4 linked regions of the Homo sapiens genome follow. The protein of the gene in region 1 purifies or fractionates together with the protein of each later gene. This does not show direct contact. Each region holds a gene or a part of one and is shown in the gene's direction. Other genes may lie near its edges. The genes, in order: COPG2, ARCN1, NUDCD1 and COPZ1.

Region 1 (6,925 bases):
ACAATTTAATGACATATTCTTTGGTCGTACAAAGATAGTAAGACACGACTTTCCCTACATGACCCTAACCTCATTGACACATGAATCAAAGAGAAACAGTCATGCAAAACTAAGGTTTTGCACTGGCAATGGTTTCAAGATTGAGGGGAAATATTCCAAGGTCTGTGCTTTGAAGAAACAGGAAAAAAAAAAAAGTACCCTCAATACAAGTTAGGCGCTATATCACAGGAACCATGTGCTATGAGAACACATTAGACAAAAGAGGTTTTATGTGAAACTACTTACAAGAGCAGCCTATGTGTAGTTTAGAGAGGACAGAAGAGATTCTGGAGTTCCTCCAAAGGTTTACAGTGTTAAGTTCAGAAGCATCCCTTGTCACGGAACAATATTCCTACTTGGCACCAATCAACAGGCTCCTATCATTGTCTTGTCTTCTCTGAGAATGTAGCCAACTTTAAAGTGAATGGTGGGGCTGGGCGCGGTGTCTCATGCCTGTAATCCCAGCACTTCAGGAGGCCAAGGTGGGCAGATCACTTGAGCTCAGGAGTTCGAGACCAGCCTGGCCAACATGGTGAAAACCGTCTCTACTAAAAATACAAAAATTAGCCAGGCGTGGTGGCAAGTGCCTGTAATCCCAGCTACTTGGGAGGCTGAGGCAGGAGAATCGCTTGAACCTGGGAGGCAGAGGTTGCAGTGAACCAAGATCATGCCACTGCACTCCAGCTTGGGTGACAGAACAAGACTTGTGTCTCAAAATAAATACATAAAATAAAATAAAATAAAATAAAATAAAATAAAATAAAATAAAGTGAATAGTTCCATGAATCCCCCTGCCCTAGGATCTACTAAACAAAGAACTTTCTTTGTTAAGGTTTTCCACTGACAATGATTTCAAGAGCGAAGGGAAGTATTCAAAAGTCTACGCTTTGAGGACACAGAAGAAAATGTACCCTCAGCTCACCTTTGCTCCAGTCCATGAGAGAGATATGAGGAAAGATGGTAAGCTCCTCTCTTTCAAAGCAAAGGCTTACTGGACTGAGATTTGGGCTGGAGATACAATCCATGAGGATTATAGATGTGGCAAACTGGCTTCTCTCGTGGTAGTCCTGGAGACTATTTTTCCCTATAGCATGGAAGTTAACAACAAATAGAGGCTCAAAAGGTGCAAAGCTCTGGACCCTGTTTAAATCCTCAAATTTCAAGAAAGCTCTAGCAGTGTTTACTAAGCTATATCACCCAGCACTTTAATAGTTTTTGCCATATTGATGTATTATTTGCTGTTAATTTACTTAGCATTTTTTAAAAGGATTTTTAAAAAATCTTGTCCTAATTAATACTATATCATTGATATCATGGTTTTGATGTACAAATTATATGCTTTTCTGAAACACTTATATCAAATTTATAATAATGAAATTTTAAAATGTTTATCTATGTACCACCTAGAACCACCCAGTGGTATGCATATTATACTTTGAAGAAAAAACTGCTCTAAAAGGGCCAAAGGATAAGTCTGTGTGTCTTAGAGGTACAAAAGTCTCTGGGATTGGGGTAGGGAATGGGGTAGAAGGGGCTTGGAATAAGGTTGTATGGCAGAGGGTACAATGAGAATCCTCCTCACATATTATCATTTATTTAACAGTATTTCAAGGGTTCCTACTAAGTGTCTGACACTTACCAAGCACCAACAATATCACTTTCAATATGTGAAAGAGATGAAACAGATCATAAAAGGCCTTGACAGGCTGGGCGTGTCCGTAATCCTAGCAGTTTGGGAGGCTGGGGCAGGAGGATTGCTGGAGGCCAGGGGCTTGACACTAGCCTGGGCAACATAGTGAGATCCTGTCTCTACAAAAAATAATTTAAAAAAATTTAACAGGGTGTGGCGGCATGCACCTGTAGTCTGAGCTACTTGGGGGGCTTGAGGAAGGAGGATTGCTTGAACCTAGGAGTTCAAGGTTGCAGTTAGCTGTGATTATGCCATTGCACTCCAGCCTGGGTAACAGAGTGAGACCCTGTCTGAAAAACAAACAAACAACAATAACAAGAAATCGAAAATACCACAATGCCTTAAATATTATTTAAATAAAGGTTTGGGTTTTATCCAGTAGGCAGTTTGGACCCAATGAAGAATTTCAGGGCACTGAGTACACATTTGTGTATTAGATATATATAATTGGTGGGTCCTCAGACTTCACCAGCTCATGGTTTTAAGATAAGGTCCATTTCTCCTACTGGGTTTCTCTCCTCAAACAATTCCTGAGACTCCCTAAGGTATCCTTGCCTGTCCCACAAAGCCATTGCAGTGATTGCTCAACCCGTCTGCCAGCCATCCTCAGTCCAAATAGTCCTGATACCGAAGGCCTGGGGTCATATTATACCATCCCTTAACTGGCTTCTTCAGGCTTCTCTGCTCCTGCTATACCTATCTGCCACCACATCCCATCCCATTTCCACCTACTGATGCTCTTAACTCCGTAAATACTGCACAGCTAAAAACAACCTGTGGTATTAAACAAAACTTCATAGATATACAGAAAAGCTGAAGAACAGCAGAGAATGATTGATCTTGCTTTACAAGGGGCTAGTCTTAGGGTCAGCCCCAAATCTGAACTCAGGTCCTTCTACTTCTCAGCAGGTCTCCGGGGCATTACCCACCTTGAGAACCTCTGGGCCTATTATCTACACTGTCTCTGCCTAGGTTCCCAATACCCTTGGGCCAAGGAAGAGGAAGAGGATGTTTCCTTCCCCAAAGCCTGTTTATTTTCACCCCCAGAATAAATGAGTGCAGACTTCTATTTCCTTCAAAGAAAACTCCACCTACAAAGTATGACTTGACCTTTACAAGCCATATAAAGCAAACATAGTAGTTAATAGTACATTTAGTCAAGTCGGAGTTAAATCTTAAATGATACCATATGTAGGATATCAACAGTTCATCTTAAATCTGTATTTCAGGGAAAGAATTTCTCTAGGATGTAGAATGTAATCTAGGTTAGAATTTCTCTAATTTTGCAGGGGCACGATCCTGTTGAGTATAGACCCAATTTACATTTCTAAACAAGTTATGCCAGTGAAGCCAAAGGCAGACAAAGTTTCTTAGCTACACTCTTAGACAAGAGAACAGAAAGCCAGCATACACTCTGAGAAAAAGAGGAACATGAGTTAGGAATGAATGCACGTTAATTTAGTGAGTTTCTTAAGTGTCAATATGGTTTCAGATGGAATCATTGAAAGAAATAGGCTTGAACAAGGAAGACTCTAAACTGGCAATGAATTTTCCACTGGGTTTTGATGAAATGAAGGAATCCAAAAATTATAAAATAGGTTGGGAATGGTATTACACGGTCCAAAATCTACCCTCTAAAGACCAGCCTCTGGTCCCTCCAAGTGCGTCTCCTTTACATCTCACATTAAGTATCCTTCGAGTACTTCTGAAAAGCCACATTCACCAGGGTGCCTGTGCTTTGTCGTAGCTTCCAAGAAGTCAGCGAGTGAAAGGCCAATTTCCAAAGTGATTCGGGAACCACTGACACTCGCATCGCTCTTGGAAGACATGCCCACCAGAACCGCGCCCGGGGAGAGCGCCTTCCGCAACGGGAGGGCCCCGCAGTGGATTATCAAAAAGGCCACGGTCATCGGGTGAACACAGACCCCTCAGTCCTCCCGCCTCGCTCTCTTGAGACTGAGGGGTCCGCAGAAGTCGCCACCCAAATAAAACCACATTCCTGCTGCTGCGGGCGTGGGCTCCCGGGTCGCAAGCCGGGAGGGTCGAGCCGAAGTCTCCGGCGGGCCGCAAGAGGAGAAGGGGGCGTGGCTGCGTCCCGGGGGCCGAGGGCGGCCGGGGAGGGCGGGCCTTGGCCCCGAGTGAAGGCGCGGCGGCCCAACCGGCGTGAGAGCGCGGGGCCGGCCTTCCTGCAGCCTCTTCCGCTCGCCGGCTGCGGCGCCTGGGACGGTTGCGGTGGGTCTGGGCGCTGGGAAGTCGTCCAAGATGATTAAAAAATTCGACAAGAAGGACGAGGAGTCTGGTACGCGCGGGGCTTCCGAGGCCCACCCTCAGCCGCGGGACGCCCCTTCCCCCGCCCGCCGCCACCTGCTTTCAGGCCGGCGGGGCTGGGGGCGTGGGCGCCGCCGTGCCAGGGGGCCGGAGCTGGAGCCGGCCCCTCCCCTCCCCTCGCGGCTGCCCGGGGCCTGCCCGTAGCCCCTCCCCCGGGCGCCGGAGCCTCCCTTCGGGCCGCGCGCTCCCGCCCCGGCGCCCGCGCGCGCCCCGTTCCCGCCCCTCTTGCGGCGCAGCCCCTCCGAGCCGCCTCCTCCCCTGCGCGCGGGCCTCCGGCGGGGGCCGAGGGCGTGCGCGCGTCTCCGCGTCCAGGGGTGCTGGTAGGGTCGGACCCCTAGTGGGAGCACCCTGTTCCCGGGGCTGGGGTCGACGGCACAGGGTGTGTGTGGAGGAACGTTCAGGTGCCTGGTACCTTATCGTTTTCCTGGGGTCACCGGCTCTGTCCAGGTCCCCGGGGGCAAGACTGTCCCGTGGGACACAGCTCGTTGAATGCTCAGGTGTCCAGAAGTGACCTGCGTCTTGATGCCCGTCTTTGGTCCAGAGCAAATGGGGAAGATGCCAAGCATCCTCAAAAAGAAAAAAATTCTCAGTGTTTGGTAGCATCTCCCACAGTGTGAGAGGGGGTTGGGTTAGTCAACCTCCATGGCCTCTTGCACCTTTACGCCTGCATGATTCTCTGGGAAACTTCGTTTCTGCCTCTCCTTAAGTGTTAGAAACACATAAAATACTGCTTACCTAAGGAAATCAAAAGCACCCTACTACAATCTCATTAATCTTCGTTGTTGTGGAAATGACACATTTTTAACATTCATGGAAAAAGAGGGCAGGGAAAGAAGACACTCATTTTGGAGAGGGTTGCTGCGAAAGAGAAGTCTCAGCTCTTCGAGTATGGCAGTGACAGAGCCGGGATCAAAATGATTTCATTCAGTTCGTATGCGTATTAGCCATGATTATCACTGTGCCATCCAAGTGTTCACTTCCCAAGCATTCAGTACCCTTCTCTGGAAAGTATATAAGTTTGTGTAGAACAGCTGTTCAGGACATTTTTTTGTTTTGTTTTATAAATAGGTAGTGGCTCCAATCCTTTCCAGCATCTGGAGAAGAGTGCTGTTTTACAGGAGGTATGACTGGGAAGTATCTTGTGCCCTTTCTTTTCTATTCTGTTTTAGAGTGGTGGGCAGAGAATCCCTGGGCTGCTGTGATCACGACATGCAAAACAAGAAACGTAACAGAGTTTAGGGAATATAGATTTGAGGGAAAAGAAAGAGGGGTTACTTGTCACAGGAGAATTTGGAGCTTATAGAAATGCAAAGACATGAAGACTGTCACAGGTTGGGAATTTTAAATGTAAGAACAGGTGTTTAGTGCAAGGTTATTGAAATCAGTTATCTGTATTAATCTCATTGTATTAGTATGATATAGATAAGTATTGTGATCCTTATTTAACTGGTATAGCCCATAAAGTTGAAGTAGTCAACCTAAGGGAATGAGAAAGTATAGGATGGAAAATCAAGGCCACGTGTAATAATTTATCAGATACCTTAGTAAATTGAGAACTATAGACAATGTTCTTTGGATACCGTGATTAAAAATAGTCTGTATTAAAGTTGATTTGCTATAATCTGTGATAGAAAAGGTAGAAAAGTAGCAATGTTTTTTATGTTTTTTCATAGGCTCGTATATTCAATGAAACTCCAATCAATCCAAGAAGATGTTTGCATATTCTTACAAAGATTCTTTACTTACTGAACCAGGTATATTATTTTTATTTTCCTCAGATAAGTGTGTCCTGGAATAGAAATACTGAAGATTCAGTGAAATACTTTCTGGAAAGTATATTTATTTATTTTAAATTCACTTAATTTTAACATATACAACGTTTGGTTAACAAAATAATATGTAAAACTTGAGTACGAGGACTATGACATATACAGGTTGAGTATACCTTCTTTGCAATGCTCGGAACCAGAAGTGTTTTGGATTTCAGATTTTTTTGGATTTTGGAATATTTGCAGAATACATACTCACTGACTATTGCTAATCTGAGTATCTGAAATCCAGAATGCTCTGATGAGTGTCTCCACTGAGTGTTATATTGGCACTCAAAAAATTTCTGATTTTGGAGCATTTCAGATTTTGGATTTTGAGATTAGAGATGTTTAACCTATACTTCCTTTTTATTCATGAGATCCTAAACCAGTGATGCGCATAGTAGATTCTCAATAAATCCTTTGGTTTCAATTTAATGAGTACTAGTTAGAGCATGTTGTTTACATGTATTTGGAGATCTTCATGTTTTTCTGAAAATACAGTGCAAGATCAGGCAAATTCCAGATATTTTCTTTTTTATGTGTGTAATGATGTTTTAAAGCTTTGATTGTTAATATTCAGATTTTATATTTATTATCCCTATGCTACCATTACTAGCAGAATAATTCTGGGCAGTAGCTTAACCATTTTATGTGCCTTGATGTCCTTTTCTCTACATGGGGATTATGATAATACCTGTTACAGAGTTGTAATGACTAAATGAGATAATTAGTGTAAAGCACTGAGAATAGTCCTGAACATACAGTAAGCATTCAGGAATAGTTTTCCTTCCGTCATTCAGCAAATATTTATTGCGTAGCTGCTGTGTGCTGTGCACTGTTTTAGGTGTTGGGGATATAGCAGACAAACCAGCAAAAATATTTGCGCTCATGAAATGTAGATTCTGCTTGCTGCTGTTGTTATTAATTTTTCTTTTCTTTTTCTTTTTTTTTTTTTTGCCCCAGACTTAAAAAAAACTCATGAAATGTCTAGGGCCTTAGAAAATATGATTTTGTTTCATGGATTCATATTCCCTCAGTATCAGTGGGGAATTGGTTC
Region 2 (7,027 bases), on another chromosome or scaffold:
TTTCCTGTATTCTAGTTCAGTTTTGCAATGGTCTCCAGAAGAGACCCTTACACAACATTTTACTCCCGTTGTCTAGAACTGATCAAATTAGAAGAGATCAGAATCAGAATTAGAGCAAGGGCACAGAGAAGGAACATAAAAGAACCAGGACCCTGAAATTGATAGGGAAGAGTTAATAGTCTTATGCCACCCTTAAAGTTTACTTTGTCTCCCTTATTTACCCTATCCCTAATATAAACATTGAGTGTCACTGGTGAATTAAAAGCTGGTAAATTTAGAATGTGTAGGAGTAGGTGACACTGCCTGTCAGCCGTGTGTAGGGGTGCAGAGTAAATCTTAACTAGCCCTGCTTCTCTCGCAGATTAAGGACAACTACGGATCTGTTTCTCCCATCATGTTTCCATTTTGCCCCAGGGGTAATTGTGCTTTCACTTATCAAATAAAAGTCCATTTACTGGATTGTAAATCAAATAAACCCATTGGTGTCAACTTCAATAAGTTTGAAACATTCTGAAATCTTTAAAAACAAATTCTCGGCCGGGTGCGGTGGCTCATGCCTGTAATCTCAGCACTTTGGGAGGCCGAGGCAAGTGGATCACGGGGTCAGGAGATGAGACCATCCTGGCCCGCATGGTGAAACCCCGCCTCTACTAAAAATACAAAAATTAGCTGGGCGTGGCGGCACACGCCTGTAGTCCCAGCAACTTGGGAGGCTGAGGCAGGAGAATCGCTTGAACTGGGGAGGCGGAGGTTGCAGTGAGCTGAGATCACGCCACTGTACTCCAGCCTGGCGACAGAGCAAGACTCTGTCTCAAAAAACAAATGAACAAGAAAACAAATTCTCTCAAAGGCCTCCATTCATCTCCACTATTGATGTTTAGAGTTTTCCCCCACTATTATCAATCTGCTTGTTTCCCCATTGTCTCCTATAAAGAGTGCTACATTATGTTAAAATTCCTTATTTATAGGGCAGCAACCTATTGGTGCAGGGTTTTTGGAAACATAGCCATCTTAACACATCTGTTGGTCGCAGTCCCCAGATCTAGTCCTTAAGTTGGAGCAGCCCATAGGCATATCTGCCAAATACCTATTTTTGCATATTAACTATATCTACAGAGGGAATTGAGTGAAACTCTTAGCCCAAGGTGCTAGGACTTCATCGTTTGATCCTTGAAGTTATTAGCCTTTTTTTCCCCTGAAATTGTAGTCCTAGAAGGCAAAATTTGGGGATCATATATCAAATTTGGGGTTGGTTTTCCGTGGTGGAGTTCTAGCTCTGAACAGCTACCTTGACCAGAATGTTTCTCACAACAGGTCTGGTGTCGGCGCGCCTGTTATCGGTGAGATCGATGGGGAGTATCGACATGACAGTCGACGAAATACCCTGGAGTGGTGCCTGCCTGTGATTGATGCCAAAAATAAGAGTGGCAGCCTGGAGTTTAGCATTGCTGGGCAGCCCAATGACTTCTTCCCTGTTCAAGTTTCCTTTGTCTCCAAGAAAAATTACTGTAACATACAGGTACTCCATTTTAGTTGAGAACATATATAGGGAAAGTGGTAGGACAGTAGGAACACGTATAGGATGCCAGACAGGTAGCATGGCTTTTTGTGGTCAGATAAAGCTCAGAAAAAAACTGATGTCTCCTACAGGAATTCCCTTTCTAATTCATTGTATGATCGTGGTCAAATTCTTTTATTGCTTTACCTCAGTTTTCCTCTCTAGATCAGACAAAGTAAAGAAATGGAATGTTAATACAGATAAAAGTACTTGTGGATTATGCAAGATTCATAAACACTTAGTTGCCTGTTTTTTTTTAACCTTATATATTTTAAAGTCGATTTGCCAAAACACCCCAACACATGGTTTTTTTAAGGCCTTGCTGTCACTTGATTTATACCCAAAGAATGAAATTGTTTTATTTAGAAGACAAAATTACTACAAAAAAAAAATCCATTCTATTACAAATGGAAATTATTTGAGGGTTATTTATGTCACAGCTCCCTTTATTAGTACAAATAATCATGAGCCAATTCTGTTGCAAACTCTGTCCTTTAGGTAGGCAAAGCAATGGAGATGTGTGAGCTGTTCCTTCGGATTTTTTTTTTTTTTTTTTTTTTTGAGATGGAGTTTTGCTCTTTTCACCCAGGCTGGAGTGCAATGGCGCGCTGTCAGCTCACCGCAACCTCCGCCTCCCAGGTTCAAACAATTCTCTTGCCTCAGCCTCCCAAGTAGCTGGAAATACAGGAATGCGCCACCATGCCCTGCTAATTTTTGTATATTTGGTAGAGACGGGGTTTCTCCATGTTGGTCAGGCTGGTCTTGAACTCCCGACCTCAGGTGATCTACCCGCCTCAGCCTCCCAAAGTGATGGGATTACAAGTGTGAGCCACAGTGCCCAATGGATTTTTTTCCTTTTTTTCTGAGACGGAGTCTTGCTCTGTTGCCCAGGCTGGAGTGCAGTGACATGATCTCGGCCCACTGCAACCTCTGCCTCCCGGGTTCAAGCAATTCTGTCTCAGCCTCCCCAGTAGCTGAGATTACATGCGCCTGCCACCATGCCTGGCTAATTTTTGTATTTTTAGTAGAGACAGGGTTTCACCATATCGGTCAGGCTGGTCTCGAAATCCTGACCTGAGGTGATCCGCCCACCTCAGCCTCCCAAAGTGCTGAGATTACAGGCGTGAACTACCACGCCTGGCGGATTTTTTTTTTTTTTAAGACGGAGTTTCACTCTTGTTGCCCAGGCTGGAGTGCAATGGCGTGATGTTGGTTCACTGCAACCTCTGCCTCCCAGGTTCAAGCGATTCTCCTGCCTCATCCTCCTGAGTAGCTGGGACTACCGGCATGCGCCACCACGCCTGTCTGATTTTTGTATTTTTAGTAAAGACGGTATTTCACCATGTTGGCCAGGCTGGTCTCAAACTCTTGACCTCGTGATCCAGCCACCTCGGCCTCCCAAAGTGCTAGGATTACAGGCGCGAGTCACCGCGCTCGGCCCGGATCATTATTTTTTAACTCATCATTCTTCCAGTTTTTATTGTTGTTGTTGTTTTGAGACGGAGTCTTGCTCTGTCACCAAGGCTGGAGTGCAGTGCGATCTCAGCTCACTGCAGCCTCTGCCTCCCAGGTTCAAGTGATTCTCCTGCCTCAGCCTCCCAAGTAGCTGGGACTACAGGCGTGTACTGCCACACCCAGCTAATTTTTTTTTGTATTTTTAGTAGAGATGGGGTTTCACCATGTTGGCCAGGCTGGTCTCTAACTCCTGACCTCAGATGATCCGCCCACCTCGGCTTCCCAAAGTGCTGGGATTACAGGAGTGAGCTTCCACGTCTGGCTGTTCTTCCAGTTTTTTAATTTGCATTACTAGGACCCAGTTTATATTATTAATATTCCCCTCTTTTTGACTTGCTTGTTGTTCTGGCCCTACCTTAGCTTCCCATATGGTCTCCGTCTCCCCTGTAAATGCTTAGAAAATTGCAGCTTCCTCCCTTGAATGATTCCAAAGAGCAGTTCTCTCTCCCTATCCTGTTAGTGACATAACCCCATCAGTGTTGGAAGCAACTGTATTGAACTCAAGACATTAGATAGAAATGGGTAAATTTTCCTATTGGGGCTATTCAAAGATTAGGACATTATAATTGCTCTCCCAAAACTTCATTAGAAAATACGAATCAGTGGTTCAAGTGTTGTATTGGTGCCGTTATAGGTACCATTGTTACATGTAATTAATTAAGCTGGACATTTATTTATTTAAAAAGGAAAAACCTCATTGGACCAGCCATGCCTAAAAAATAAGTATGATAGAGCAGCTTACTGGGACTTTTAACACGAGACTTTGAGAGCAGAGCAAATGAATAATGTGAAGAGCTAGAACGTTGCCTTTTGGGTCAGAATGTTAATATATCATCCTGATAGAATGTCTATGAATTTCATAGGTTATACAGGGCAGGGCTGGGCTGTGGCCACTCATTTTGGAGCTTTTACTTAATACTACGGAACATCTCGTCCCAACAGTTGTCTTTTCTCCATCTAGAAGAAAAGCAGCTTAATCATTTTGGTGGGGAAGAGTGATGCTGTGACTTTCAGTTGTGAATTGAACATTTTTCTAGTATTTTACAGTTACTTTTAATACCGCTTTTAGGGAAATTGATATGTTCTGTAATGAGAATGTAGTCAACATGATGGAGACTCAAACCTCCTGCTTTACCTTACTCTTTGTTTATTTTCCTAGGTTACCAAAGTGACCCAGGTAGATGGAAACAGCCCCGTCAGGTTTTCCACAGAGACCACTTTCCTAGTGGATAAGTATGAAATTCTGTAATACCAAGAAGAGGGAGCTGAAAAGGAAAATTTTCAGATTAATAAAGAAGACGCCAATGATGGCTGAAGAGTTTTTCCCAGATTTACAAGCCACTGGAGACCCCTTTTTTCTGATACAATGCACGATTCTCTGCGCGCAAGGACCCTCGACTCACCCCCATGTTTCAGTGTCACAGAGACATTCTTTGATAAGGAAATGGCACAAACATAAAGGGAAAGGCTGCTAATTTTCTTTGGCAGATTGTATTGGCCAGCAGGAAAGCAAGCTCTCCAGAGAATGCCCCCAGTTAAATACCTCCTCTACCTTTACCTAAGTTGCTCCTTTATTTTTATTTTATTATTATTATTATTATTATTATTATTTTTTGAGATGGAGTCTCACTTTGTAACCCAGGCTGGAATGCAATGGCATGATCTCAGCTCACTGCAACCTCCGCCTCCTGGGTTCAAGCAAGTCTCCTGCCTCAGCCTCCGAGTAGCTGGGACTACAGGTGCACGCCACCACGCCTGGCTAATTTTTTGTATTTTAGTAGAGACGGGGTTTCACCGTGTTGCCCAGGCTGGTCGCGAACTCCTGAGCTCAGGCAATCCGCCCACCTCAGCCTCCCAAAGTGTTGGGATTACAGGCATGAGCCACCATGCCCAGCTGCTCCTTTATTTTAATCCCTAAATATAATCCCTAAATATAGTTATATTTCATACTTAGTTTGTTTTTAAAAAGTTTTCTCTGTAGAAAATTTTAATCATTCATACCCTTTACCTTTAGGTTTTTCTTTCTATACATTCAGTCAGGCACTGGGATCATCTGTTTACAGGCATTATATTTATTTGGCACTCCTGGAACAAGTATATCTAACCCATTCTTGATTTTTGGACTATTCAGGTGAACTATTTGAGGGGTATGGGGTCTAGAAGTTAAAAGATACGCATGTCTTCTGTTCTTTTCCCGTATCAATTCATTCCTTCATCTCTTTGCCAAGTTGTTTTCCTTTCAGGGCCTGTCCTTCCAGTTTAGAACAGTACCATGAATCCCACTTGTGTCAATATTAAAGATAGCTGAGAAGCACCTTTCAAATGGCACAGTCCCTCTTCAAGATGTCTAAAAGAATGGTTATGTCTGTCCAGTTAGGGATTTCACATCCACATGTAATCATGTCTGCTGCTGTTGCTACCCAAATTTTCATTTCTCCACATTTTGGGTACTTAAGCTAAAACGTAATGGCCACAGTCTGTAATCCATTCACATTCCTCAGTTTCACCACCTCCCTCTTCCAGACTGCACTCTCTGTCATCAGTCCCCTCCTTTCTAACAGAAATGGGGTTATGATTTTGAAGGCTGTGGGTTCAGGGAGTCTTTGCCAATCCTGTTGGCCCTAAACTATCAAGGAGGCTCCATTTCACCATTTGATTTTTTGCATTTCAGGAGGCAACTGATTGTTTCGATATGTACATATTACTCACGTATACCCCATTTCCTTCCAGTCAGCCCAACATTTTCCACCAGTCTGTCCCCATCTCTGAAATCCTTCCTTCTCTTTCCCCCTAAGTCTTTTGAGTGTCATCATGTACTGGTGGTTTCTCGGTTCCATCTCATCCATTTCCTTTTCAATGGAGACTACAGCGTCAGCCAGCTCAGCCTTGGCTTTTAACTCAATATTCCAGTCCATAGGGGTGGTTAAAAGTTGCTGCAAGGCTGCAGGCACTGGCAGTGGGAAGAGGCAGACGACTAGATGACTTCTGCACTTTTAGCTGGTTGAAAAGTACCACTCCCACTCTGAACATCTGGCCGTCCCTGCAAAGAGTGTACTGTGCTTGAAGCAGAGCACTCACACATAAATGGCTGTGTGTGGAATTGCTTGCCAAAGAAGTTTCTAGCCTTTCCCTTTCCCCTAACTGCATCAGGGAAGAATTCTTATCTCTAGCTTGGTTTCCACATGAGGTTTTTCTGAGAAGGGCTTGGGACAAGAAGTCTGTCATGTTAGTTAAGCAGGCAAGAAATCCTACTAATCCAGTTTTGTTTGAAAGTTGTTTGTCCGTATGATTTTTTAAAAGTCAAGTTTAATTTCAAAAAACCTTTTTTTTCTGAGATTACTTTTGGGGTAATATTTAAAATGAGAGACATTTTGTAACCCTGTAAAATACATAGGGAATATAACATTCCAGTGTATACAAAGAAGGCAAATTCTTTAATCAAATAAAGCGCATTATAAAATGAGATGTTTATTGGATTATTGACTCACTTTGGTGTCTGCTTGTTGATTCAGGATGCTGTAATGGGACCTAACATTAAAAATTAATGACATGTTTTTTTTAAGAGAAAGTAATCTGTGAGAGTATTCATTGCCTTTTTCCATCTTATATGTATTGTGCTTCCTTGCGTATTTTTCTACATTTGATACATGCACTCCTGACAGTGTAGCTTTTGAATTTGATGCTACTTCTGGCCTTTTTGGGGATTGGAGTCTTAATTTTGTCAGACGGCAGTTGGAGAGTCAAAAAAGTCAGGCTTCATCTTTAATCTTGGAGTCTTGGAGTCTTCTCTTCCCCATTAGACCGTGATGAGAAGTGATCCAGGGATGAGGGATAATGGGAACAATTTTTGGGAACTGTTGATAATTCCCTCAGATAAACCTGCTTACTTTTTTTTTTTGAGATGGAGTCTCGCTTAGCTGCCCAGGTTGGAGTGTGGTGGTGCGATCTCAGCTC
Region 3 (7,027 bases), on another chromosome or scaffold:
TTGCCTCCTCCTTCTTGAAGAAGAGTTGACCAAAAGCTTATGTTAGGATGATTTTCTCCTCTGCCATTATGTTAGATTTGCTGGGATGTTTACATTGGTCAAATAGTAGTCAGATTACCAGAATATTCTCTACTTAGAAAAATACATGATATAAATATATAGTTATATGCCAATTTCCAAGACAACATTTTTACTTTAATTTTAAAAATTAGATATAAATCTAAAGGGTAGTTTAGGGTTTTAATAGTAATAAATAAGGAATTAATTTCTCTAGAACTACAGTTTTTGAAAACAGAAGAAAATGATGCCAAGTAGATAATCAAAAGATTTAGTTTACTGCTTCAGCTCCTTTGAGTTATGCTAATAAGTGTATTGTAATATTGCTACTGTCTGAATCTCTGTAGGTAGCCTTTAGTTCTGGGTAAATAAAGAGATGCGAGCTTAATATATTTATGTCTTATAAAATAATTTCATCTGACCAACAGATGCCTACAGAGACCAGGCTTTAATTACTTGAGAAAAACCAGTTAGGTCTTAGAACCAAATGGTTTACCTACCTTACTAAGTTATACTAAATGTTATACTACCAAATTATAGTATGTTCAAAATACACAGTAAATAACCAGAACAGCAGTAGCCTATTTACAAGAGCCTGTTGCATTCACAGTTTCAGATATTCATTGGATACTGTGGCAATTTCTGTTTTGGCCTTTAGTAACAACTTTCATTTTTCTGAAAAACAGAAGTAATGTGGTATGTAGCACAGCTACCTGAAACAGTTGGAAGGTATTTTGAGAATAATGCGCAGGAGAGATATGAGTGGGAATTTATCTGGTATTGAGCTGTATGGATTCTGTAGATTTTGAACAGGACAAACCTACTTGGCTCACTTTCATCTTAAAAATAATACCACACATTATTTCATATGGGCTTATACTTCTTTTGGTTTTGTTTTGTGTATCCCCTTGGCGTGTATTAAGACTTCAATAGTATCTTTTAAATAAATTTAAAAACTTAATTCTACCTTGTGCCTTCTTTAGCATATACTGCCCTAATGAAATAAGCTCCCTTCAGAGATGTTTTCAGCTAATAATAGTTTTGACTAGATACTGGTGGGAGAGGGAGGAGACTTGGGGATTAATTGAGGTGGGAGGGATACTGTGGAATATTGGTCACTTTAAGAAACAATTCAGGAGGGTTTTAGGACTTTAGGGTAATTAATATAACAGAGAAGCTAAAAGTAGAAGTGATTACGGAGCATGGTGGGGGGTAAGGGGGCCAAGGGTGGTGGTGGTGATTACTGAAGTTTAAAAAGAGAAATTAAAGGAGACAGCTTGCTTTCCAAATGTGTTGCCTCTAATACCATGGAAGTGCCATGTATCAACGGTATCACAGTTTAGATGCTGGGCTTGTTCAGAAAACTAGAAACTTCAGCCTAACAATTTTTAAAAGTACGCCATCTACTCTTCTGGTTTCATTACAGTTCCTTTCACTCATACTAGAAAGAAAAAAAGAAACAATAAACTAGCTACTTGTTCCTGCCAAAACTTGTCATTTTCTGTTCTTCCGTTTTGTTTCCCCTATTCCTCAAACAAAAGCAAAACCCAATCAACCAATAAAAACCTGCCTTCATCTGTCATCTCTGTTTTGAATATTTAAGGATTTTTTTTAAGCTTTTGTTTTTTCTGTTTATGGAAATCTTAAGAATGGATTCTGAAGGCCCATTACTTGAATGATTTTGGCAGATGTTCAAATACATAGGGAACTTGATGACATTAAAGCACATTTTTCTTTGTAAGGTTTTCAAGTAGAAGTAGATATGTGGGGATACCAGGTACAGGTTTTGTTTTTTGTTTTTTGTTTTTGTTTTTTAAAGCTACCTTTTTTTCAGTTAGGCTTTTTCTCAACTGTCCATATCTTATTTGGAAATCTTGTTTAGGAAGCAGCCTTAAAACCTTCTCTATTTTGTATTTAGTCTTAAAAATGTAATAGTTGTTGAGATCTTGTGTTTGTGGTATAAGAAAGAATTTGATAAGATTTTGTGTGTTTCTGTATGATGCTTAGACAAGATTTTGTGTGTTTTTATATGATGCTTTTTTGCTTTTCAAAAAACACTTTAGGATTATTTTAAATAGAGTTTGTTAACTTATTCTTAAATGCTAATAGGCTCTTTTGTTTTTGAGAAAAAACATGTTTTGGTGATTTATTCTTCAATGTTTTTGACTCTTGCCTTTGTAAACTTCCAGAGAATAAATAACAAACAAAAAACAGGAAAAAGGCATACACACATGCACACTCATATACAATATCTAGAAACTGAGAGGAAGCAAGGTAGCCAAGACTAATGATCAGTTTTTTTCTTATACAAATAAATATTTTCTTAAAAGTTCTGTCCTCAGGGAACATTATCTAAACTTGCAGTCTTTATGTAAAGGCCTTTTTATTTTCAAATTTCTTGTAATAAATAGTATCCAAAATAACTGTTGAATCACCAGAATCCTATATATTCCCTCTATGCTATCTGTGTTCATGTAATTATGTACACTTTTTTGTGTGTGTAATTTTGTTTTGTAGATTATGTTTAATGAAGAACTTGGGGATCCTTTTATTATAATTCACAGTATCTCACTGCTAAATGCTGAAGAACATTCTATAGCTACCCTACTTCTTCGAATAGAGAAAGAGGAATTGGATATGAAAGGAAGTGGTTTCTATGTTTCTCTGGAGTGGGTCACTATCAGTAAGAAAAATCAAGGTAAAACAAAAGTCTGAATCTGTCTCTACTGGTTGGCATTATTTAGTAGATTTTGAAACACAAAGCTGTCCCTGTAAATACTGTTTGCTCTTTCTTGGGCATTGTGTTACAATTCTGGCACCTGCCACCACTGGTGGAATGAATATGTATAGATAGTTTTTCCTCAGGTATATTTTATAGAAAAAAATTGCAGTGTGCATCCACAGCCAATTATGCCTTTTATATAAAAGAAGACATTGTTATATAAGTTTTGAATAATTTAACGGGTATATTTTTAATATATACAAAAATATATGCATATATATGTGTGATACACAGAAACATATACCTAAAACTAAATGTAAATTAATACATTATAGTATAATTTAAATGTAAATAAATATAAATACTTACTTGGAAATGAATGTCTTTATTTCATTAAAGTACAGGTATGATTTCTTTTAAATCTAATTGAACTTCATTATTTGTTTCTACATTTAGGAAAACTGTTACTTTTTCTTACCTGATGTGCTCCCATGTTTAGAATAGTCCTGAACTTTGGTCTGTTTGAAGCTGTCTGTCAAGCTTCTAACTTGACATTAAAAATTACAATCTCATGAATTAATTAGGATTTCTTTAAGGTATTAAGAAATCTCTTTGCCTTTGCTTAGTTCCTGCTGACTCATTGAGTGTTTTCTTTTTAACTGTAGTTGAGTACTGAGAGTGCTTGTTTCCATAATGACTCTATGCTCTTTTTCTCAGTAGTTTTTATTAGCTGACTCATTTATGAGTAAGTTAATATAAATTAAATTATCATTCATCTCTGTAGAAAAATATTTCTTTACCATAGCTGCTAGTTTGCAATTCAGTAAAGACTGTTAGTATTTGTTTCCTAAGAGGGTTTTGCCTTTTATTCTAAAACAGCTATCTGTCTATCTAATAGATATCTCAAAATTGTTTATAAATAAACTGAATAAGTCTCCTAGATTTGTTCTTTGAAGTATTCAATATAATTTATTAGTTCTTTTTGGTGTTGTAGTTTTATCTCTGGAGGAACACAGTAACTTTAAACTTTAATTAGATATTAGAAAACTTTTTTGAAATCCCAGTTGGTAACCATAAGATCTATGTCACAGCTATCCGAGTATGCCAACACAGTACAAAAGCATCCATAGACAATATATAAATGAATGAGTATAGTTGTGTTCCAATCATACTTTATGGACATAGGAATTTGAATTTTATGTTTTTTTGACATATATTTAAATATTATTCTTTAAATATTACTATTTTAACAATTTAAAAATATAAAATTCATGCTTAGCTCACAGGCCATACAAAAATAGGCCTAGATTCAGCTTTGGCTCAAGGGTCCTAGTTTGCAGAACCCCTGCTTTAGATAATGGAAGCCTTAATTTTTTTAAGGTACGTAATTCAAAATCTTACAGGAGACATTGTCATGCATATTCCTCCTCCTTTCTCCAAGACACTTGGTTCTGTAACATCTTTTTCTCAATCTGTGGTAACTCATCAAATTGCCTCAGAACATAGCAGTACTCTGCTCCAGCTCTACTTCTCCATCCCGTTTGTCTTCGTTTCTTTGCCTCAGCTGGACAAATACATTGAGACTAACCTTTTTTCTCCCAAGATTGTAGTTATAGAATCATTAATTCTCTTTATTGTTCCCTTTATCTTTCTTTTATATCTTGTTCCTTCTCTCCCAGACTACTACTAATATGATTGGTTTTTTTCTTCTTTTTCTTTTTAGTTAACAGAACAGTATTTTCGTAAACTATTTTGAATGAAACATTTCATAAAGTATATTTATGGTCAGATAAGTTTGAAAATGTGGACATAAAATAGCTCCATTACACATTAAGCATATTAAAGTTTCTAAAAATTGTGAGTAAAAAAAGTTTAGGTTAGATGCAAAGGCTCATGCCTGTAATCTCAGCACTTTGGGAGGTCAAAGCAGGAGGATCACTTGAGCCCAGGAGTTTGAGACCAGTCTGGGCAACATAGTGAGCCACCGTCTCTACAAAAATTACAGAAACATTAGCTCGGCATGGTGTTGTGCACCTATAGTTCCAGCTATTCAGGAGGATTGCTTGAGCCTGGGAGTTTGAGGCTACAGTGAGCAGTGATCGTGCCACTGCATTTAGCTTGGGCAACAGGGTAAGACCCTGTCTCAAACAAACAAAAAACAATTTACATTTAATTTTAACCTAGCATTTCTCCACATATTTAACCACGGAATCCGGTTTTTGAGGCTTCCTATTCTTTTCTGTCCCATGCATGCTGGGAAAGGCCACGCTATAAATATGTGATGTCGGTGTTTGGATCTTTAAAGTCAAGTAGGACTTTTGGCCCTGCATGTATCTATAGGGGAAGTGTAGGAGTTTTGTTCATTCATTAAATTACAAGCCTGTTCTTAAATATGTGTGAACTGAATGTGTGAATGTAGGTGAGGATTTTGAGTAAAAACAATGAGATATTTTAGAACAGATGGTATTATTATGTAAAAACTCATAATAATATGACATTAAGTTGTGATTTTCGACTACTCAGTATGAAGCCTACAAGTATAACCCACTTAAAGAGTAACAGTATAGGTAAAAGTATGGAGTCAGCTAAAATGTTTGAGTACTTTTTAAAGCAAAAAATTACTGTCTTTATAGGAAAATAAGTTTAATTTGTCAGAAACTTTTGGAATACAGTTAATTGTTTATATCTTAAAAGTAGCACTAATTTATGTTTAATTATAAGCATATAGATAAATGTCTTGTGTAAAAAAAATCATTTCTGCTATAAATTTATTTCATTGTTAAAATGCCCCTTATCGGGAGTTAGAGCAGGCAGAAAAATAGACCACACTGCATGTTTCCCCTTGTCCTCAATTTGTCACTTTTCAGAAGAAACTTATCACATACCTGCTGAGAAGGCAGACAGGCTTTAGTCAAGGAGAGGTAGGTCATACAGAAGCTGTTATTCCAAGTAAGCCGGTCATGTTGGAGTTCTGGGGTACTGCTGTCTAATAAGAGATTTCTCCAAGATGGACATGTTTTATATGTGTACCATTCACTGCAGTAGCTACTAGCCATGTGTGGCTATTGAGCAATTAAAATGTGGCTAGTATGACTGAGGAATTTAAATTTTACTTAATTTTAAGTAGATACTTCTGGCCAGTGACTACCACATTGGACAGGACAATCGGGAACAAATTTCACCAGACCCAATATTTTAAAATAGGGACTTATTTACGGAAAATTAGATTGTAAATTGTTTATCCTTATGAAAAGACTCTTAATAGTGTACCTTTTAATAATACATTCAAATTATTTAATTATAATTAAAATCAATTTTTAAATATCAGAATATTTTGATAATAGTTTTTATTTGTAATGTTTTGTTCTGAAATACTTTTCTTACAGATAATAAAAAATATGAAATTATTAAGCGTGATATTCTCCGTGGAAAGTCAGTGCCACATTATGCTGCTATTGAGCCTGATGGAAATGGTCTAATGATTGTATCCTACAAGTCTTTAACATTTGTTCAGGCTGGTCAAGATCTTGAAGAAAATATGGATGAAGACATATCAGAGAAAATCAAAGGTAATTTTTATTCTTAATAGAGCTTATTGGTATTTTCATAAACATATATTTATGTCTTTTATTTTCCCAGTTAGGTTAATAGTTCTACAAGGGCAAGATAGATGCATAATTTTTTCTTTATTTTCTCATGTATTTTCCAGAAGTCTTTTATAAGGTATACCACCTTAATAGTGTGAATGAACTGGTTTAATTTGATCATTTTGTTATTACCAAAAATGTTTTTTTAAAAAATCGTTTATTAGCTTCCTTGATTAGGTGCTTAATAAATAGTTATCAAATAAATGTCTATTTGCTATTAGTATTGATGGTATTAATAGTGTAATATTGAAGATACTAATTTTTAAAAATAAGTTAAGCTAATGTACCTGTTCTTACCTTTTATACTAAACTGAAAGTAAGTTCCTTGAGGGCAGAATCACATAATTTTATTAATGTTGAATGAATGAATGAAGGTTATGTTTTAGCATGAAAAGACTGGCCAGGCACGGCAGCTCACGCCTGTAATCCCAGCACTTTGGGAGGCCTAGGTGGGCGGATCAAAAGGTCAGGAGATCGAGACCATCCTGGCTGACACGATGAAACCCCGTCTCTACTAAAAATACAAAAAAAAATCCGGATGTGGTGGTGGGTGCCTGTAGTGCCAGCTACTTGGGAGGCTGAGGCAGGAGAATCACTTGAA
Region 4 (7,027 bases), on another chromosome or scaffold:
CTAAAAATACAAAAAAAAATAGCTGGGCGTGGTGGCACGAGCCTATAGTCCCAACTACTCAGGAGGCTGAGGCAGGAGAATCACTTGAGCCAGGGAGGCAGAGGTTGCAGTGAGCCGAGATCGCGCCACTGCACTCCAGCCCAGGCGACAGTGTTAGACTCCATCTCAAAAAAAAAAAAAAGGCCGGGCACGGTGGCTCACGCCTGTAAATCCAGCACTTTGGGAGGCCGAGGTGGGCGGATCACGAGGTCAGGAGTTGGAGACCAGCCTGACCAACATGGTGAAACCCGGTCTCTGCTAAAAATACAAAACTTAGCTGGGCGTGGCCACGCCTGTAATCCCAGCTACTCAGGAAGCTGAGGCAAGAGAATCACTTGAACCTGGGAGGCAGAGGTCGCGGTGAGCCGAGATGCGCCACTGCACTCCAGCCTGGGTGACAGAGCAAGGCTCTGTCTCAGAAAAGTTAAAGAAAAAGAAAGTCTCTCTGTCACATTTCTCTTCCCTTAGTTCTCTGTCTCTGCTTCTTCAGTGAAGTCTGTTTCAGCCTGCTTCTTCCTTATTCTTTTGCTTTAATCTATGCCTAATAGGCTGCATTCACAGATCCCTGCTAACTTGATCAGGTAACCCTGGACTTTGCTTTTAAAACCACACTGGTTCTTTGTTATGGGAAACCTATGTAATGCGGTTAGGGACAATCTGATCAAAGCATATTCTTCTGTCCTTAACTCTACAAGGTACATACATAGCTGCAGGATGTCGAGAAAAAGGGACAGGTAAGCTACAGGGGGTCAAGAAGAACTGTTGATCAAAGTTTGCATTGATTGTGGAATTTCTAAATAACAGTAAGTTCCCTTCTTTTAGGTACTTTACAGTGGGTCACATGGTCACATTTCTTTCTTGAATTAAGTAATCCAGCTCTAGCTTTCAAGCAGATTTGTCTAATCTCTCTCAGGTCTCCTTAGGCTCTAAGGAAAGAGACCCTTTCATCTCTTTTAGTTCCCAATGCTTAATAATAGTGATCTCAGCCTGCATCTTTGGACTTGGCTTCTTCTCTCTTGCTGTATCTGCTGGTTCTCGCTTTTTGAGTTGTGAATGAAGAGGATCTCTGCAGATCACCATTCTCCATTAATAACCTGTGGAATCTTAAAGATAAGGATTTCCCCTTCCTCCTTCCTGCTTTACTTTTTTTCTTTAAAGCTGAATTACTCGGGCCGGGCTCGGTGGCTCACACCTGTAATCCTGAGGTGAGTGGATCACCTGAGGTCAGGAGTTCAAGACCAGCCTGACCAACATGGTGAAACCCGTCTCTGCTAAAAATACAAAAATTAGCTGGGCGTGGTGGCATGCGCTTGTAATCCCCAGCTACACGGGAGACTGAGGCAGGAGAATCGCTTGAACCTGGGAGGCGGAGGTTGCAGTGAGCCGAGGGCCATTGCACTCCAGCCTGGGCAAAAAGTGAAACTCTGTCTTAAAAAACAAACAAAACTGAATTCTGTATCGGTTTAGATCTTTAAATCTTTGTTCATAGGTTTTATTTTTCCTAATCCTCTCTGGATTCACTTTCAGAGTGCTTCTCCAGTGCTTTACAGACTAGACTTCTAATTCTGTACTTTGTCTTACCTTAATATTTTAAAACCATAACCAAATCCTAAATTCTAAGCCTCATTAAAAAATCAGGCCATCCAAAGTGCACAAGGATATGAGTATGTATGGAGGAGGAAACTATGCAGAATATGTCAATGACTTTAAAGGTTGATGTTGCTCCTTGGCCTTTGCTTCCTGAATCATCTTAATGGGGCTTTTGTTAAATTCCTTTGGCCCTAACAGTAGAGGTACTTGGCCTAAATGCCCCCCTCCCCCTGCTCTGGGCAAAGGTATCAATTACATTAAGCCCCTAAAGCACTCCCATCTCGTTCCTGGCAGTCCCCTGTGCCCCTCTCCCAGCTGCGTCCTTGCTGGTGCCTGGCCCCCTCCATTTTGTTAGGAGAAGCAATCTCCTCATTCCTGCGCTGTGGAGATATATTTCTCAGCTAGGGCGCGAGCAGTGCCAGCACTGCCCCCGGTGAGGTCCCTGGCAGCAATAAAAATTTTTATTGTGATTATGTTGGTGTCGGGGTGTCCATCTGGGTTATTGCACACCTAGTTTAATTGATTGAAGTTTAATTTATTGACACTTCAAATTAAATGATCAGAATAAACTGTGCTGTTACTCTGGCCAGCTTGTTTTAATGGTTGATTGCTGGAAGCAGACCTCGGCTTGAACTAAAACCCCCAAAGAGCAATTGACGCTGCTTCTAACTCTCCCCATGTCTTGCCCTCCAAGAAGACCTTGTTATAGATTTCCGACGTATTTATATATATTTTTTCCCTCTTCTTCACAGTGGTGGGAAAGAGTTGGTCCCTGGCAAGGTATAAATTATATCAAAGATCTAGGGGAGCTGTCACATGGTCAGAAGAGGAGGAGGGGGCCTCCATGTGAGGAAAACCAGACCCTTGAGAAGCCAGGTCTGCCTTGGGAGGCAGAGGATGAGTGCAATTATCCAGGTATTTGACGGAGCCTAGTGGCAGGTTTAGGGTCTTTTTTATCTAGATACTTGCTGCTGTTTCTTACTTTACTCCATTGACATGGCTTGATTAGAGTCTGGATGTTGACAAGAAAACAGGTTGTGGAAAGGGAAACTAGAGGAGCAAATCAGATGGAGCAGGGATAAAGAATCAGTACCTATGTACCCACTTGTGCTGGAGTAATTAGGAAGAGGAAAGGCAGAGTGCCCAGGGGACAGCTGATGAAGATGGATTCAGAGAATGAGTCCATGCACTTGTAAGATGCTTGTGCTGGCAAGGGCCCTCTCACATTCTGTCCCTCCTGTTTTTGGGCAGAATAGGTTTCCTTACATCAGATTATTAGGGGGATCTCTCCTGGCCTTACATTCCCTAGCCTGTGTCACCTCTTCTGGTGTTTGACCACACCCATCTCTTCAGGAAGTCCTTCCTGTTGTGTAATCTAAGTTATATATGCTGCAGATGAAGCCTGCTTTTTTATTTGGCTTTTTATTTTCACACTCTTTTTTTTTTTTTTTTTTTTTTTTGAGACAGAGTCTTGCTCTTGTTGCCCAGGCTAGAGTGCAATGGCATGATCTTGGCTCACCGCAACCTTTGCCTTCCAGGTTCAAGCGATTCTCCTTCCTCCGCCTCCCGAGTAGTTGGGATTACAGGCCCCCACCACCATGCCTGGCTAATTTTTGTATTTTTAGTAGAGACGGGGTTTCGCCATGTTGGCCAAGCTGGCCTCGAACTCCTGACCTTGTGATCCACATGCCTTGGCCTCCCAAAGTGCTGGGATTACAGGTGTGAGCCACTGCGCCCGGCCTATTTTCTCACTCTCAATGCAGATATCCCATCCATAGCCAATTGCCCTGGATAGCTCGGTCAACTAATTTTCTGCAACTCCTTTTCTGTTGTGTGGTTTTAGAGGGAGACTAAAACCAGAGGAGAATAGAGCAATTCTGCCTCGGGGTTGATTTGGGGGCATAAATAGACTGAAAGATAACACAGAGTCTGTCAATTCAGTCTCTCAGAGACTAGCTTTTTGTTTTCAGGAGCAAAAGCAGGGAGATGTGGGGGGGAGTAAAGGGATAAATCATGATACAAATCGTGACCCAGGACTCATCAGGAATGGATCTAGCCCCTTTTGATTTTTTTCCTTTGCTGAGTGTTATTTAAGTGAGGGCTCCTGGATTACCAAACTGAGAAGGCAGAATGTTCTAATGGTGCTCTCAGGCCTCAGGTCTGGAGTATAGTCTGATTTCTCCTTATTCAGTTCATCTCTCTTCCCAGCAGTACTGCTTTGTCCCTCATTTCTGTGATTCTTTCACTTCCATGATAGTTGAAGAATTAGGGACTATGTGACCCCTGGGTAAAAAATCCTCCAGCAAGGCCGGGCGCGGTGGCTCACGCCTGTAATCCAGCACTTTGGGAGGCCGAGGCGGGCGGATCACGAGGTCAGGAGTTTGAGACCAGCCTGACCAACATGGTGAAACCCGTCTCTACCAAAAATACAAAAATTAGCCGGTCATGGTGTCACGCGCCTGTAATCCCAGCTACTCAGGAGGCTGAGGCAGGAGAATGGCGTGAACCCGGGAGGCGGAGGTTGCAGTGAGCCACTGCACTCCAGCTTGGGCGACAGAGTGAGACTCCGTCTCAAAAAAAAAAAATTTTCCAACAGACAGGCTTTCTGAGTTTTGAGAAAGGTCCTGAGACTTTGCATTCCTAAAAAGCTTAGGGTTTGGTTGTCTTTGTCCTGCCCATTTCACAGTCATCAAATTCAGCCATTGAAAGCTGGAGGTGGCTGGGCATGGTAGCTCACGCGTGTAATCCCAGCACTTTGGGAGGCTGAGGCAGGCGGATCACCTGAGGTCAGGAGTTCGAGACCAGCCTTACCAACATGGCAAAGCCCTGTCTACTAAAAACACAAAATTAGCCAGGTGTGGTGGTGGGTGCCTGTAATGCCAGCTATTTGAGAGGCTGAGGCAGGAGAATCGCTTGAACCTGGGAGGTGGAGGTTGCAGTGAGCTGAGATTGCACCATTGCACTCCAGCCTGGGCAACAAGAATGAAACTCAGTCTTAAAAAAAAAAAGGGAAAAAAAAAAAGAAAGCTGGAGGGAGCGTGGTTGCTGACCTTTATTCCCCCTGCTGGCTGTTAGTTTTCTCAATCATATTTATTAATTTATGAAGGCCACACACACATTTATTGAATTTATCCAGCATTACTGGATGCCAGGTAGAGTAGAGGGGGTGGTTTACAAAAGTATCACTCATTTCCCCTCTTTTTCCTGCCCCCTCCACACCATCTTATTATCTCCAGAGAGAATCTCATTTAATTCTAAACTCGGCTCTGTGAACTCTTTGAAATCATAAAAAAATTATTTTTATTTATATATATATTTTTTGAGACAGAGTCTTGCTCTGTCATCCAGGCTGGAGTGCAGTGGTGCGATGATCTTGGCTCACTGCAATCTCCATCTCCGGGGTTTAAGCAATTCTCATGCCTCAGCCTCCTGAATAGCTGGGATTACAGGCATGCACCACCATGCCCAGCTAATTTTTTTGTATTTTTAGTAGAGACAGGGTTTCGCCATGTTGCCCAGGCTGGCCTCAAACTCCTGAGCTCAAGCTATTTGTCCCCACATTGGCCTCCCAAAGTGCTGGTATTACAGGTAGGAACCAGCATGCCTAGCCATGAAATCATAAAAAAATTTGTGAATGTATTTTGCTGGGAATAAGGTCCATAGATGTAATTGGTTTATCAAAGGGGTCTGCTGTAACTCAAAAAAGGCATTAACCTTAACTGATCTAGGTCAAGCCTCTCATTTCTCTGATGAAGAAGCTGAATCTCAGAGAAAGGGAAAATTTGAGTTAATGGCTGATCCCCATTATAGTACAAGTATTGTAGCCAGGCATGGTGGTGCATGCCTGTAGTCCTAGCTATTTGGAAGGCTGAGGCAGGACTCCTTGAGCCCAGGAGTTCAGGTCCAGCCTGGGCAACATAGCAAGACCCTGTCTCTATTTAAGAGATGGATTGTAGGAGTTTAGAGACATTTTCTCCTGTAATATCAAAACTCTTGTTGACTGTGCTTTACATGTTTTGGGTCTGTGTCAGATAGGAAGATTGTAGGTGTCTCTTCCTGCCGTCAGTTCTTCCCGAGTCATGTGTTGAGTTTTTTCTTTATAACCAATATTTGGTCTCATGTCAGCTGGGTAGTGTTCTGTGGTACCAGTGGCTCCCACTCTTTCCTGAGCTGTGCTTTTTGAATCTAATCTTGTGTGTATACAGAAATAATTAGCAGGGTGTGGTGGCATGTACCTGTAGTCAGCTACTTGGGAGGCTGAACGGGGAGGATCGCTTGAGCCTGGGAGGTTGAGGCTGCAGTGAGCTGTGATGGCACCACTGCACTCCAGCCTGGGTGACAAGAAATAATAATAATATTAATAAATCTGATATAGGCTGGGCGTGGTGGCTCATGCCTGTAATCCTAGCACTTTGGGAGGTCAAGGTGGGCAGATCACCTGAGGTCAGGAGTTCGAGACCAGCTTGGCCAACATGGCGAAACCCCGTCTCTACAAAAAACACAAAAATAAGCCAGGCTACAAAAAACACAAAAATAAGCCGGGCGTGGTGGGAAGCGCCTGTAATCCCAGCTGCCTGAGAGGCTGAGGCAGGAGAATTGCTGGAACCCGAGAGGCAGAGGCTGCAGTGAGCCAAGATCACGCCACTGCACTTCAGCCTGGGCAACAGAGCAACACTGTCTCAAAAAAAAAAATCTGATATGTAAAAACTGCTCTTCCCTGTCAAAGACTTTAGCTAATTCTTCTTTTCTTTTCATCTGAAGTCTATCGGATTGTGGCTGGCAAATTGGAGCCCTTAACCCCAGAGGAGCTTTTAATTTTAAAAAAGTTGGCACAGGCTGGGCACGGTGGCTCATGCCTGTAATCCCAGCACTTTGGGAGGATGAGGCGGGTGGATCATGAGGTCAGGATATCTAGACCATCCTGGCTAACACGGTGAAACCCCGTCTCTACTAAAAAAAATACAAAAGAATTAGCTGGTCGTAGTGGTGGGTGCCTGTAGTCCCAGCCACTCGGGAGGCTGAGGCAGGAGAATGGCGTGAACCCGGGAGGCAGAGCTTGCAGCGAGCCGAGATCAGACCACTGCACTTCAGCCTGGGCGACAGGGTGAGACTCCGTCTCAAAAAAATAAAAAAATAAATAAAAGTTGGCACAGAGGCCAGGTGCAGTGGCTCACACCTGTAATATTAGCATGTTGGGAGGCCGAGACAGGCAGATTGCCTGAGTTCAGGAGTTCAGGACCAGCCTGGGCAAGATGGTGAAACTCCATCTCTACTAAAATAAAAAAAATCAGCTGGGCATGGTGGCAGTCACCTGTAATCCCAGCTACTGAGGAGGCTGAGACACGAGAATTGCTGGAACCCAGGAGGCGGAGGTTGCAGTGAGCCAAGATTGTGCCAC

What was found.
Region 2: the proteins of COPG2 (region 1) and ARCN1 purify together in Homo sapiens (affinity purification with western blotting; 2 studies listed by BioGRID and IntAct, with this or other methods). This does not show direct contact.
Region 3: the proteins of COPG2 (region 1) and NUDCD1 purify together in Homo sapiens (co-immunoprecipitation; 3 studies listed by BioGRID and IntAct, with this or other methods). This does not show direct contact.
Region 4: the proteins of COPG2 (region 1) and COPZ1 fractionate together in Homo sapiens (co-fractionation; 5 studies listed by BioGRID and IntAct, with this or other methods). This does not show direct contact.

The regions. Positions count from the first base shown.
Region 1 is NC_000007.14:130,665,735-130,672,659, reverse strand, and holds the start of COPG2 (coatomer subunit gamma-2), read left to right. Parts: upstream 1-3,911; 5' UTR 3,912-3,991; coding exon 3,992-4,028; intron 4,029-5,125; coding exon 5,126-5,178; intron 5,179-5,730; coding exon 5,731-5,811; intron 5,812-6,925. Other genes in the region: TSGA13 (testis-specific gene 13 protein), read left to right, coding at 872-999, 3,477-3,646. UniProt on the Homo sapiens protein: The coatomer is a cytosolic protein complex that binds to dilysine motifs and reversibly associates with Golgi non-clathrin-coated vesicles, which further mediate biosynthetic protein transport from the ER, via the Golgi up to the trans Golgi network.
Region 2 is NC_000011.10:118,596,393-118,603,419, forward strand, and holds the end of ARCN1 (coatomer subunit delta), read left to right. Parts: intron 1-1,314; coding exon 1,315-1,519; intron 1,520-4,232; coding exon 4,233-4,322; 3' UTR 4,323-6,641; downstream 6,642-7,027. UniProt on the Homo sapiens protein: Component of the coatomer, a cytosolic protein complex that binds to dilysine motifs and reversibly associates with Golgi non-clathrin-coated vesicles, which further mediate biosynthetic protein transport from the ER, via the Golgi up to the trans Golgi network.
Region 3 is NC_000008.11:109,289,072-109,296,098, reverse strand, and holds part of NUDCD1 (nudC domain-containing protein 1), read left to right. Parts: intron 1-2,574; coding exon 2,575-2,755; intron 2,756-6,165; coding exon 6,166-6,348; intron 6,349-7,027.
Region 4 is NC_000012.12:54,328,109-54,335,135, forward strand, and holds part of COPZ1 (coatomer subunit zeta-1), read left to right. Parts: intron 1-7,027. UniProt on the Homo sapiens protein: The coatomer is a cytosolic protein complex that binds to dilysine motifs and reversibly associates with Golgi non-clathrin-coated vesicles, which further mediate biosynthetic protein transport from the ER, via the Golgi up to the trans Golgi network.